Linked DNA regions of Homo sapiens: regions 1 and 2 are each linked to region 3. Evidence: fine-mapped expression QTL. A gene starts in region 3. Each other region holds a variant in brackets. All regions are shown on one strand. Distances are from middle to middle.

Region 1 (2,757 bases), 170 kb before region 3:
CCACTGTACTCCAACCTGGGTAACAAGAGTGAAACTCCATGTCAAAAAAAAAAGAAAGAAAAAAAGACAAAAATATAAGAGATAACCCAGAGTCATGGATGAATAAATTATTTTAGTGTAAAGCAGGGATCAGCAAACTACTGCCAGAGTTAAATCCAGGCCACTGTCTATTTTGTAAGTAAGTTTTATTCTAATACAGCCACACTTGTTCATTTACATGTTCTCTGTGGCTGTTTTCTGCTCTTCTCACACTACAATGGCAGGATGTGAGTAGCTGAAGCAGAACATATGGCCCATAAATTTGAAAATATTTACTACCTGGCTCTTTGCTAAAAAAGTTTGCCAACCCTGGTATAGATAATAAAGAAGTCACTGCAGATTGGAATAGTCTGGGACATTTCTGGAGAAGGAGGCTAGGTGCTTAAACGGAAGCAGTAAATGAACCAGAAAATAAGTGATAAATAGACAAATGTCCTTTGCTGAGTAACTGTTTATTGGAGGCTTGAAATTTCTTAAGAGTTCTAAAAGGACAAGACCTTCCCAACTGGATAAAACATTATTAAAGAAATGAACTCTCATAGTAAATATCAAAACAGATGGACTAGAAACTAAAGCCCAGGTTTCCTGGGATCTGTCGTATTCAGACCCCAATACTACGCAGAGGTTTGTTTTGGCTGATGGTGGTGGAGGTAGTGGTGATAGTGTCATTTTCACAGATTATCTTGCTTCAAGAGATGCAAAAGTGTCACGTGACAAGTCTGAGCAAAATAGAAATACTAAACCAGAGGTAACAGAAAATCTGGACACAAACCTTGCCCTGTCCATTAATAGGTGACATTCTCTCACCTGCAAAATAGAATAACCATGGGGGGCCAGGGTCAGAATGGGAATCATCATCAAGATGGATTCAATGCTGGGCCAGTATCCAGGACTCCAGCTGATACTCAGGATGTGGTTAGTGCTTGAGACAGAAACAAAGCACCAGGTTGGAACTGATGACACACTGGGTCTCCATATTGTATTGTGCCCTGTCTGTAACCTGAGTCAGATCCAACTGTAAGGGTTACAGATGCTTGTAAATATCCACCCTGCTCTGGCATAAGCTCTGTTTCTCACAGAAAGAAAGGTCCATTTCAGGCTGCAACCTCATCATTTAAGAGAAAAGAACATAGCAAAAAAAAAAAAAAAA[G/AAAAG]GAAATGGACACTATCCCTTCCATGACCTACAATGTCCCTTCTTGGGCCCTAAAGACTTAAGATACTGAACACACACTGAAAACCCAGTAGGACTCATGCCTTCAAAAAACATTAACACAAAAGATACATCTAAAATAAAAAGCATAGTTTAATAAGGCAATAAAAGTACTTAAAATCAAAGTGATAAAAACACTGAATATTTTCAAATGGTTTAAAGACCAATTATTAACAATAAATTATGGCATCAACTGTAGCCACAAGAAATCACCCCAAAATACTTCTATCTAGAATTGAAAGATGTCTTATCACACTCTCATGACTGATTCTGATGAATTTTATTAATATTAAGATCCTGAGCATAGTGGGTACTTAAGTGAACATTTGAGGGGCAGCTGTCCCCACCTTCTCTCATGCCTATCTTGATCTCTTCTTCAAGTGACAACAGCTCAGTATGACTGGTTTCCCTAACCAAGAGAATCCTCTACAATAAAATCAATGAATCAATGCTCAGAAGACTGCATGAGACACCTTCTTCACAAGTGGCTATTTAGGGCTCAATCTTTTTTTTTTTTTTTTGAGATGGAGTCTCACTCTGCTGCCCAGGTTTGAGGGCAGTGGTGTGATCTCAGCTCACTGCAAGCTCCGCCTCCCAGGTTCACGTCATTATCCTGCCTCAACCTCCCGAATAGCTGGGACTACAGGTGCCCACCACCACGCCTGGCCTACTTTTTTGTTTTTTTGGTTTTTTTAGTAGAGATGGGGTTTCACCATGTTAGCCAGGATGGTCTTGATCTCCTGACCTCGTGATCCACAAGCCTCGGCCTCCCAAAGCGCTGGGATTACAGGCATGAGCCATCGTGCCCGGCCTAGGGCTCAATCTTAAAATGACCTCTCCGAAGTCCTTTTCTTTTTTTTTTTTTTTTCCTTGAGATGGAAAAAAAAAGTTCTGTCGGCCAGGCTGAAGTGCAGTGGCATGATCTCAGCTCACTGCAACCTCTGCATCCCAGTTTCAAGTGATTCTCCTGCCTCAGTAGCTGAGATTACAGGTGTCTGCCACCATGCCTGGCTAATTTTTGTATTTTTAGTAGAGATGGGGTTTCACCATGTTGGCTAGGCTGGTCTTGAATCCCTGACCTTAGGTGATCCACCTGGCTCAGCCTATCACAGCCAAAGTCTTTTTCAATTGGCAAAGAACCTAAGCTGCCATCACCAACTATCTGACCATTTAGAGAACTTACTAACAAAAGCATGTGAGTTTCACTGGTTAAAGAATCATGTATTAAAATGGGAGTGTGGTAGAAACAGGAGTAGAAAGTGAACGGGGCTTGTTCCAAACAAAAATTGCAAAATACAAAGTTGATAAAGGCCCCTTTGCTTAAAACTCTTTGTGAGAAATATTTCATCCAAATTTTAACTGTAGCTTCTGTTAACTTTTGGCACTCAATACTTGCTAGGCACCCAAAAGCATAACGACCAATCATTCCCACACAATTTAGTTGTGATCAAATTTACTGGTTAGATTTATTTCTGAGTGTGCATTTTATCTTTTCCTCTTATGAGATTTCTG
Region 2 (2,757 bases), 66 kb before region 3:
CCACCAACACAGACCAAGGGAGGTTAAGCCAAAGAGGAGGTTGCAACATGATACAAACAATATTTATTAATAGAGAAGGAAAAAGAAACAGCAGAACCCACAGAAAATAAGCATTTGTAGAAGAAAGTGTCAAGACTAAACAGCAACCAAACTGGCAAGGCCACTATTCCCAGAGGAAAACTCACATGAAACTCGTCAACTTTTTCCCAAACAGCAACCCTTATTTTCCACTCATATGGGCCCAACATTTTCAGATAATACATCCATGTGTTCAACAAATATTCACTAAGCACCTAATATATACCAGGCACTGGGCAAACTTGGGCTCACAAAGGATTTGCTGCCTACAGGAGAAAACAGAGCCCTCAACACAGGGCTGCCTTAAGAAAGGTCTAAAGCGACCCATACCCTTTGTTCACCCAAAGTTCACCAACACATTGTTGCAGTACTATTTATAGATCCCAGGAGATACCTCTGGGGGAGGAAAGAACTGATGAAACATACAGCACAGACAACACTAGGTAATAAAGTGTCAGACCAGAAACGTATAAAATGAATGGAAAACACAGACACACAAAAGACAGAACTAAACTAAAATGGAAGGAAAAAGAGTAAATAGAAAGGGACTCGAATGAAAGACAAAATAGCAAAGAAGAGAGGTCAGAGAGGGGTACTGGGAATATGACAGAAAGAAAAAAAAGATGACATTTACAGTAAGAGACAACTGTATCCAAAGTCTTTCAAATGTACTTCTAATATTCCCCAATTTGCTCTAGTTCAATAGATCAACTCTAGCAATGACAAATGATAACTCAATGAACAGAGACTTGATTGTTTATTAACCAAATACCTCAATTTGGGGGAGTGGTTTGATATTTTTTCAAGAAGCACACATTAGCAATTTGAATCACATTGCAACCCTTCCTATAATATGTCATTTCTGGAAACTCAGGAGAGAAATTGCCAACCACTGCTTCTCAGGAAACCCAAAATGTCCTGCCCTTGTCTCCTCCTATTCTCCCGACTCTCTCTCTCACTGAGCTTCTACCCTAGGTAAGCCGACTACCATACAGATGTCACTAGGCATTTCCTAACTTCTTTCCCCTGACCTGGTTTGTATCATCTTATCCTTGATAGGCTAGTACAATAACTTTTTCAACAATGTTCAAGCAGACAGTTTACTTTGTTTTCTAACTTCAAACTAAGAATATTTTCCAAAGGTTGCAGAGACACAGGCTTGGGTACAAAGGGTAAAACTCCACTACAGTCTCTGTGCCAATTACAGCATAGGGTCCAGGGCACATTTTTATTGCTCATGCTTGGAAAAGCACTCCAACTTAAAATCTTACTATATTTTAAGTGGGCTTACCAAAAATTAAACAGGCACCAAACTCTTAAATGAATTAACATTTGTTTTCAAATGCTTCCTGCTGTACCCAAATGCTCCTCCCATGCCCTTCACTCTCACAATAACCTCACAGTCCTTGCTTACA[C/T]GTTTTAGAGGAGCAAAACCTATAAGTACACAGATATCATCTACAAAGCCCCTGCCTGCCCTTCATGGCTGCTGGCACAACTGAAGACATTTACCATTTCAAGATCCTCAAAAGCAGAGGCAATGCAAAGAATGAGGCAATGAAGCCATTTAAATATAGCTATGGCAGGGCCTGGCAATGTTACAGCAAATTAAATTTTAATGGGACACAGAAAATGCTGAACCTTCAGAAAGTTTATCAGAGGAAGGGGCATCTGAAGGACACAAATGCCCCAGGGCCCAGGTGTAGACACAGAGGAATAACTACATGCCAGGACCACTCAAGGTCAAGAATTTGCAAAATATACAGATAACCAGATGTGGGGAGACCAGCCCCTCTGCAAATTTGCTGGCTTTTACTTAGAAGGCAAAGAAAATTGATAAAAGCTACTTCGTGAAGGCTCAGAGAAAACTGATATGTAACAAGGTCAAGTTTCTGTGTCAATGAAAGATGCTGCATACGCAAAGGCAGCTGATCTAAATAAAGCTGCTGACCAATGACCCAGTGACCTCAAAGCTTCCACAGTGTGTCTTCTGAGGCTGTTCTTCAGGGACAGATTCACATATAGGCCCTGTATGGGATTGTTTTCATGTGCTTCTTCAGATTCACTCTACCCTCCTGCTCTGTACTCCAGGAGGCTGCATCAAACCAGCTTCCCTGCCTTCTAGCATCTCACTGGGCATGGCCAATAAGTGTCCCTGGCAAGGGATGGGAGCAAAGAAAGACAGAAAGTAAAGGGAGTTTCCTCCTCTTTCCCAAATGCAGTCTGTGGTCTGGCATTGGTACATCCCTCTGCCTAAGGCAGAGCTCATGTCTGGCGGCCCTGCTCCTATAGTGACAGCCACTTCCTCCCCTTGTTCCAGCAGCTCTGATCTATATGAGTTACAGCAATGGATTGTCCAGACCGCTAGCTTCCCACTGGGCTCAGTCACTGGCAAGCATCTGCAGGATATTAGACAGAAGAAGAGAGAAGGTCCTGCTATTTATTCCTGGACTTCCTCCCTCCATTGTCATCTTGGGCTGCATTCATTCCTTGACTGAAGGTCACAGTCCCGCCCTAACCTTTTCTAGAACCCCATCTGTTCTTGCCAATACAGGCACTTCCCTGATATGCTCTTTAGGACAACTATGGTAGCTAAGGGTATGGATTTTGGCATCATACTATCTGACATGAATTCTCATTTTTTCTAATCAATATCCATATGACCTTGGCCAGTGACCTTCC
Region 3 (2,757 bases):
TATGTACCCGGTGACACAAGACTGCTCTGAGGGTGGCGCCCGCTGCTTCTCCCGGGCGCCCCGCCAGCCGCTCTCCCTGGCAGTGGCGCCCTTTCCTCGCCCTCTGCCCGCCCAAGAGCTGCTGGCCCAGAGCAGCCGCATTCCCGACCCTCCAAGGCGAAGATCCCCTGGATTCACCCCCTCACTGGCCTTTCCGCCTAACTGACTGAAACCCGGCTCCCCAGGCACAGATTTTCCAGCCTCCCTAAGAAATGAAAGGTTCGCGTGCCCTTCACCTCCCTCCCTGCTTTCCAGCGTCCTCAGCGCCTCCCCGAACAGCCAGACAGTGGAGCGCCCCGTGTTGGGGAGAGGAGGGGAGCAGACGCCTCCGAAGTTTGGAAAAGTTACACAGGGGCTGGGGACTGGGGGTAGGGGGTGCCGACCGGGAGAAGGGGAGGGTCACCTGTTGAGGGAGGGAGGGAAAGTTTGCCTGGCCCCGCCTCCTCCTCGGGGCACCCCGCTCCCAGCCGCGCCGCGCCTCCCCACCTGGCCCGCGCTCACCTTGAGGCCGCGGATCTCGCCGAGGTGCAGCTGCAGGCGGCGGTTCACCTCGCGGATGAGGTTGCTGTGGTCCAGCATCGCGCTCACCTTCTCCGCCTCGGCGCGCCGCAGGCTGCGGATCAGCTCCTCCTTGCTCCACTGCAGCAGCTCCTCGTCCGACACTTTGGACAGGTCCTCCACCGGCGCGGGCGGGGCCGCGGACGAGCCGGCCGGGGCTGGGGAACAACTTTCCGCCGCCGCCGCAGCCGCCGCCGCGCCTCCGGCCGCCTTCGACATGGTATCCGCGGGGTGGCAGGTGCAAGTGGGTGGAAGAGGCGAGGCGACTCCCGAAGGCGCGGGCGCGGCGAGGCCGCCTCCGCCCACACCCCTGTGCGCTCCGGCGAGTCAGCGGCACCGCCCAGGGGCCGCTGGGTTGGGGCGGCGGGGGTCGCGCTGGGTGGCCATCCTACCTCGCCATCCCCGCGCGCGCGCCCGCGCTCCCCCAGGGCCCGGCAGCCAGCCGCTTGCTGCTGCCGAGGCCCGTCCCAACTCCGCGCAAGTCCATGGTGAGGGGCACTGGGGAGCCCGGGGCTGCCGCGGGAAATCCTCGGGGACAGCGGGGGAGCTGCACCGCCGTTCCCCTGCCCTCTCCTCCGCCCTAAGCCGAGACTGTCGCCCCCCGCACTCTCTGCCCTGCACACAGGCGTGCACGCACACGCACTTTCCTCCCCCTTGCCCAGCTGCAGCCCCCGGCTTCTCCCCTCTCCTAGCTTGGAGGGCGCGCCGGGCACCGCGGCGCCTCCCCGGCTGCTCTAGCGACGCCGCCGCGGCTGCCCGAAGGCTGCTGCGCTCCTCCTGCCGCCTTCGCTGCGCCCGCGGCCGCTCCTAGGCTGCTCCGGAAAGCCTTCGATTTGCAGAGCGGAGTCGAGAAGGGGTGGAGGGTGGGGGACCGGCTGGAGGAGGAGCCTGGAGCTGGGGCCACCCGTAACCCGCAGCAGCTCCCGCATGGGCTGGACGCAGCTGCCACTCGACCGCTGCCCGGGCCCTCGAGGTGCGCTCCCGGCTGTCCTGCCCGGGAGGGCTGGGGGCGCGGCTCTTTCTGCGCCCGGGCGGGTGGGGCTGGAATGGGGAGAAGGTGAGGAGCTGTGGCCGCCCGGTCTTTGGGAGGCTCGCGCGCGCCACCGTGTGGCGGAAGAAGCTCCCTCCTCTGCCCTCTGCACACCGGCCTTGTCACCAGGCAGGGGAAACAGCTGCTGACCCAAATGCGAGGTGCTTCGTATTTGGAGGGATCGGGGATCAGGAAAGATGGGGTAGCAGGACCTGAGGGATAACCAGTTATTTGCACTTTGGAGAATGGGAGGAGAGGCAAATGGCAAAAACGGGGGTTGGGGAAAGGGGCAGCTTAAGAAAATCCAAATGGTCTGAAAAGGGCGAAAAGAGGCGTCAGGGCACTGCTCTTATGGGGCTACCCATCCCCACCCCCCACTCTCGCCCCACCCCTAGGCCTTTGTGTTTTCTAAAAATCCACTACTCTATGAAGAAGCTTCGGGAGAAGGTACTGGATCTTTTAAATTTTTATTTGAAAAATATCAAAGCCTTTAGGCGAAAATAAAATACCTTCATCTCCTGCTTCCTGAAACCTGGATTTTAAGGTCAGCACAGTCACCTCCCCTCGGAGCAAAGCAAGCCCCCTCAGGCAAGCTGAAATGCCAGCCAAGGAGATTTCCATTTTCTTCTATGCCGCAGGCTGCCAGGCGTTTACTGGGTCGGCTTTTTTATGATGGTTATTTCTGGAAGGAGGAAGTCTGAGTCCCTGGCTTCTATCTTTGGGCTATCCTCTTGTAAAGTTGGGTGGAATCGTCTCTGGGCTGAAAACATGCTTTTGCCTAAAGAGGTGGATGCCCTTGACCACCGCATGTTATTTCCAGTGGGGTACAGGGCCGGAAAATGGCAAGGATCTACCCCCACCGGGTTTCAGTTAACCCGGGTGCAGAGGGAATAATCTCTATCTGGTAGGATGATAATCAAAATCAGTCCCTTCACCCGCCGGTCAGTGCGTGTCCCCTATTGGGGACACTGAGACCTGGCTCCCGGGAGAGGCAAGGAAATGTGGTACTGCTTACGGTGACCAAATGGCCTTAACATTCCCCTCAGCTTAACTAAACTTTAGACAGGTTTCTTCCTAACTGTAGGCCCCAGACCTTCCTTTTCTCAGAGCATTTACTTTAGCCAACTTCC

Direction of the effects. Alleles are on the strand shown, and positions count from the first base shown. SD is a standard deviation of normalised expression in the study named.
As copies of AAAAG replace G in region 1, the expression in B cells of the gene that starts at base 1,451 in region 3 goes up (large effect, 0.83 SD a copy in Fairfax 2012).
As copies of T replace C in region 2, the expression in thyroid of the gene that starts at base 1,451 in region 3 goes down (small effect, 0.27 SD a copy in GTEx).

What was found.
Region 1: its variant is fine-mapped to the expression of CCDC85A in B cells (Fairfax 2012, PIP 0.92).
Region 2: its variant is fine-mapped to the expression of CCDC85A in thyroid (GTEx, PIP above 0.99).

What each region holds. Positions count from the first base shown.
Region 1 is chr2:56,356,088-56,358,844 of GRCh38, reverse strand. All of the region lies in intron 3 of CCDC85A (coiled-coil domain containing 85A), which reads right to left. Among named protein-coding and RNA genes, the nearest start is that of CCDC85A, 170 kb to the right of the region's middle. The variant G/AAAAG (reference allele first, on the strand shown) is at 1,190.
Region 2 is chr2:56,248,826-56,251,582 of GRCh38, reverse strand. The region is part of intron 2 of CCDC85A (coiled-coil domain containing 85A); the gene reads right to left. Among named protein-coding and RNA genes, the nearest start is that of CCDC85A, 66 kb to the right of the region's middle. The variant C/T (reference allele first, on the strand shown) is at 1,494.
Region 3 is chr2:56,182,684-56,185,440 of GRCh38, reverse strand. It overlaps CCDC85A (coiled-coil domain containing 85A), which reads right to left and starts at 1,451. Exons shown (of 6, transcript NM_001080433.2): 1 at 541-1,451. The coding sequence starts at 816. The region is part of intron 1 of LOC100129434 (a long non-coding RNA gene); the gene reads left to right. RefSeq lists a silencer at 1,452-1,781.